Regions from separate parts of the Homo sapiens genome. Here region 2 is linked to region 1. The links come from fine-mapping of genetic effects on gene expression. Tissue or cell type: esophagus muscle. Region 1 holds a variant in brackets; the other region holds the start of a gene. All regions are shown on one strand. Distances are between the middles of the regions.

Region 1 (2,750 bases):
TGTATATTTCAAAAACAGGGAGATTTGAAATGTTTCCAACACAAATGATAAATGTTTGAGGTGATGAATATCCTAAATATGCTGATTTGACCATTGCACATTGTATTCATGTATCAAAATATCACATGTACCCCATATGTGTGTATAATTATTATGTATCAATTAAAATATATAGATTTTTAAAAAGATGGCTGCTGCAGCTCCACATATCACCTCCTTATTCCAGTCATGAAGAAGGAAGAAAGGGGAAAGGTGATAGCTGAGTTCATCTCAGGGCCCCCTCCCGTTCCCTGGGACTTCGGCCCCTGAGCTTGCAGCCGCCAATGCCGCCCCGTCTTTTTGGCAGTTGATCGCACTCTACTTCCCACTGCTTGGGATTTCTTCCTTCGATGCAAGCCTAGCTGCCTCCACTCATCAGGGGTCCCTTTTTACCTTGCAGGGCCACGTGGATGTTTTAAGCCATCCCGCCCACCACTGCTAAGGATTTGGTGCAGGAAAGGGAGGCTGAGGCCTGGGCTCAGTCTGCCATCTTGATCCAGTCTCCCTGGCTGCTTCATCTTTTCTAGAATTTCTCACATTCTACTGACCTCCCAGCTTGCCAGTGCCGCTAACGTCATTTCGGGGTGGTGGGGGAGAGGGGAGAGGGAACATGCGTGTTCACTTGGCCATCTGGAGCTGAAACTCTTGTTTAGTTCCTGCCAGGGAAGAGGAAGCAGCTCCGGGAGGTCCGGGAGAGCATTCGCTTCCTGCGCCAGGTGGGCAGGGACTGGGTCCAGCGCCGCCGGGAAGCCCTGAAGAGGGGCGAGGAGGTTCCTGCCGACATCCTCACACAGATTCTGAAAGGTGCAAGGGCCCCCTCTGCGGACTGGGGAGGGCGGGGTGGGCCAGGACGTTCCCCAGGTGATACATCGCCACTGACTCTGTTTGGCTTAAGAGGAGAAACACAGTTAGTTATTTTATGAGCCATGGGGAAAGGGAGCAAAGATTTGCTGGGAACTGAGACTCTCCTTGTTTTTCAGCTGAAGAGGGAGCCCAGGACGACGAGGGTCTGCTGGACAACTTCGTCACCTTCTTCATTGCTGGTTTGTAGCTTTGGCGGTGGCCAAGGGCCCGGAGCTCTGCAGAAATGCTGTGGACCATGGATCCCTCAAACCCAACTCTTTGGGATTTTTTGGGCTATCTGAGCAGAGCTCACCGCAGGGCTAGGGGGCTGGGCTGAAGGGAGCAGAAGCCCCATCTCCTAGCTGTCTTGGGGGCCTCTGACCTGGTAATGCAGCTGGCAATTGTGGGGATGTGTGAAGCTGGCCTGTCAGCTCCAGAGAGCTTGGCTGTGTGAATGCAGGCATCCCCTCACTCAGAATTTGTGGGGAGGCCTGCATTAGACTGGCACAAGAAGAGATGCTAAGCAGCTTCATTCATTTGCTCATCAGATATTTCCTGAACATGGTTCTTCACCTAGAAGACTCCTCTTCAGCCGTCAGTGAGCCCTCGCATGCCTCCTCCCCAGGGAAGCACAGGCTGCCTCAGGCACTCAGCTAGAAGCTGACCACAGGCCTGGGGCTCCTCCCCACCACCCATCTCATTGTGTTAAGCTGTTTATTTATTTGTGGTAATTGAGTGAC[G/A]TCTGTTCCCCACCAGACTTGATGAGCGAAGGGTCAGGTTGTTTTGCTCACCTCTGTTCTCCTGGGGCCCAGTGTGGTAGGGAATCCCATGAACATTGAATGAAATACACGAACAAATGATTGACACTGGGCACTGGGAAGATGGAGGTGAACAAGATGAGGGACAGTTTCTAGCCTATTGGTGGAGGTGGAAAGACAGAGAGACAAATACTGATGGACGAAGAGGTCTGCAGGTGAAAGGCATGGAGGAAGGCCCTTTAGGTGGGAGAAGCACTTGCAGATGCCCCAGGAGATTAGAAGCGGCCAGTGTTAAAGCAAGGCTGCAGGGCGCCATTCCCTGCAATGGATAGAAAGGACTTGCGGAACCAATGGCTGGTCCTCATTCCTGCAGCTGGGAACCCAGGTCCTGGATGAGGCTTCTGGACAGACCTAGCCTCAGTCTCCTCATCTGTAAAATGGGGGCCTTGAGGAGCTCTCCAGGCTTCTATCCAGCCTTCCAGAGAGGGTTTATTAATCCCGTCTCGTCCCTCCAGTCTATCCCTGAGCCCTGCGTCCAGATGCTATGGGGGACTGGCCGAGGGCACGGTGGGTTGTGTCTGTCTTTCCCTTTGCCTGTGAGGAAACTGAGGCCGAGGAGGGAAGTGGCCTCCTATAGTCACAGCCCGCGATGCAGAGCTGGGGCCAGGGCTGCTGTGTTCTCCCACCCTGCTCCCAGGCTGAGGGCTCCGCTGGCTGTGTGAATGGCCCACCTCCACACCCTAGGAGCTGGGCCCTGCTTCCCAGCTCTGACTTGCTGTAAGTTATAGGCCCTTCTCCTGCATTCAAGCAGGCCCCTCAAGCCCCCTGGCTCCTTTAGAGTAAACTCACGTCTGTTCCCTCCCAGGCCAGCTTGGAGGGGTTGACTCTATCACCTTGGCCAGACCCTGCCAGAACTCAAAATCAGCCTCCCGAAATGTCCACCACCCCCTCATAGAACCTCAGGGTCATGGGGGGCTTTTGTGTGCACCCTGCATCCTGGGAAGGCGAGGCCTTGGGCTCACGGACTTTGAATTGTGTCCCCCCCACTCTCCCTGCTGTGTGACCACAGAGACCCATTCCTCTCCACCTCCACTTTCTCTTCTCCAAAAT
Region 2 (2,611 bases), 71 kb before region 1:
CTGTCTGTGCAGAATCTCTGACAGTGGCTATCTCCAGCTGTGGCCAGACAGGCCTTGTGAGGGTCCAGCTTTGACAAGGTGACCATAGCTCCTTGGCTCCAGTAACATCTGCTCTTCCTGCATCAAGGACCTGGGGACTGTTCCTACTGTTGCTGATCTCAAGGTTACTTCACTGAGCCCTGTATGGCTTCTTAGCCTCTTTGGCTTCAAGTCCCTGCGTTAAATTCCCCGTGTTTCAAATACTCAGAGATGTTTGGCTGTGCGGAGACCCTGACTCTTACACTGCACCTGTTCAGGCCAGAGCCACAGACCTCTGAGTGCTCCAGCCCTGCCGCATCTCATCCACCCCCAGCTCTGCCAGGAGCATGGGCCCAAAGACAGAAACATGATCCCCCAGGACAGTCCAAAGAGACCTGCAGAGGACGGATGTGTGCGTTGGGGCCATGAAGATGGAGTAGGAGCTCACTGGACAGAGAAGATGGGGAAGGACACTCCAGGGAGAAGCAAACGCTGAGGTCCACTTGAGAAAAATGCCTGGGTGGTTTTGGTGCTGTGAGATTCTAGGGTAGGTGAGACAGTGTGTGTGTGTTTGTCTGTGTGGGTGGTTTTGGTGCCATGAGATTCTGGGGTAGGTAAGACAGCGTGTGTGCGTCTGTATGTGTGTGGGGGGGTGGGGCGGGGTTGGGTCTGAATCTCCAGCGGGGGCAGCGGAACAAAGGGCTGGATGCCCATCCCAGGAGGTAGATTCATCAGTGCTCCCTATGCGAGAGTGGAAGTGGGGAGCCCCAGTGGGTCCTGGGCTGCAGGAGAATCCGCTGCCCCAGGAGCAGAGACTGGGAAGAAGCCCACAGTAAGGGCAAAGGGTGGACTGCGGAGACTGCTCCGTCCTCCCTCCCCACCCCTACGCCAGGTTTCACTTCTCCCTGAGAGTCCTGGGGCAACACCCCCTGTTCTTTCCCTCGCACCCCCATTTTTAAAATGTTACGTGGGAGCTTTCGGGGACGGGCTGCGGGCATCCGTTTCCCTAGCCCAGTGGGAGGTGGAACCGAAGCCCAGGAGTCCAGGCCTCTGGCCCTGCGCCTCCCTGGCTAAAGAGCGCCCTGTGGGGAGGAAGCAGGGCCCCAGGCGGAACCGGGAAAACACACCGGGGCTTTAAACAGACCGGGCCACTCCCATCGAATTTGGAAAGCGGTTAAAAGAGGTCGTGCCGCATTCTGCGCCGCGTCCCTCTTCCTTCAGTCCCGCCGAGTGTCCCCGACCAGAGGTGACCTCCTAGAAGGGGAGGTCCCCAAACTCGAGGCCCTGCGTGTAGGGAAGGGGAGCGCCCGCCCCTTCCCTGCCGCCGCGAGCGCCCCGGGAGGGGACCGGGGCTGCCGTCCCTCCGCCTCTTCCCCCGCGGGGCGTAGCGATGGCCCGGGCCAGGGCCGGGGCGCTGCTGGCGCTTTGGGTGCTCGGGGCCGCCGCGCATCCGCAGTGCCTGGACTTCAGGCCGCCCTTCCGGCCGACGCAGCCGCTGCGCCTCTGCGCGCAGTACTCGGACTTCGGCTGCTGCGATGAGGGGCGCGACGCCGAGCTGACCCGCCGCTTCTGGGCCCTGGCGAGCCGCGTGGACGCCGCCGAGTGGGCCGCGTGCGCCGGCTACGCGAGGGACCTGCTGTGCCAGGTGAGCGGGCGCGCGGCCACCGGGCGGGGCGGGGCGCGGGAGGCCGAGTCCTGGAGCAGAGATCGGAACCCCGCGGGGGCGAGGGCCAAGAGTGGGCGGCGGACTCGGGAACTCTAAGCCCCAACAGGGAGTCATTTGGCACGGGGCGGGGAGACCGCGCATCCCAGGACGACTCTTGGCTTTGCCATTCATTAGTTTTGTGACTTGGGCCTTCTCGGGGCCTCAGTTTCCCCTCCTGAAGCAGGAAGGACGGACGGACGGACAGATGATGTCATCATTTCCTCAGAGGTTGGGGGCTCTTCTGCCCCAGTCCCCTGGAGTCGACCCCTCAGCGTCCCACCCCGAGCAGCTGCACCCTTGTCGGGGTACCAAGGTGGAGAGGCATCTGTCCCGGTCAGTGCTCCTTTGTGTTGTCCCCGGGGCAGTGAAAGCAGGGGGCCCTGGCGTGGGCGTGGTCAACGTGTGGCCCGGGTTTGTTGAGGGGGTTGGGGCCACTGTCCCCCACGAGCGTCTCACCCCCATCCTGATGCCCTTGCCACTTCCGCCACCACCTCTGTGGGTGCTGTGCCCTCTCCTGGGGATGGCGCCCTGGCCTGCAGAAGCTCTCTCAAGACTGAGCGACAGCTCTTTGTTGAAGCCCCTGGGCCCCCCATCTTCCCTCTGAGGGTGGAGCCCCTGCTTCTGTGCACACCTGGTGGTGCCACCGCTATTTGTTTTCCTCTTGTGGGAGTCTGAGGCCCCAGGGCCTGACCACACCCAAGTGGGCAAATGTTGCCTGGCTGAATGCAGAAATGGAGCAGGACGGGCAGCCCCAAGGCATTCCTGCCTCAGCATCTGGGCAGTGAGAGGCCTGGGGTGGAGAGGCCCCAGGGGCCAGGGCCGTGTCCCAGCCTTCGGCCAGCAGGGGCAGGTGGTGTGGGGAAGGGCAAGAAGGCTGACTTGGAGTTG

Evidence for each region. PIP is the estimated chance that this variant, and not a neighbour inherited with it, causes the effect.
Region 2: HHIPL1 starts here. The variant in region 1 is fine-mapped to the expression of HHIPL1 in esophagus muscle (GTEx, PIP 0.96).

What each region holds. Positions count from the first base shown.
Region 1 is chr14:99,715,118-99,717,867 of GRCh38, forward strand. CYP46A1 (cytochrome P450 family 46 subfamily A member 1) reads left to right here. Exons shown (of 15, transcript NM_006668.2): 8 at 693-843; 9 at 1,020-1,082. Among named protein-coding and RNA genes, the nearest start is that of CYP46A1, 32 kb to the left of the region's middle. The variant G/A (reference allele first, on the strand shown) is at 1,623.
Region 2 is chr14:99,643,800-99,646,410 of GRCh38, forward strand. It overlaps HHIPL1 (HHIP like 1), which reads left to right and starts at 1,330. Exons shown (of 9, transcript NM_001127258.3): 1 at 1,330-1,663. The coding sequence starts at 1,409.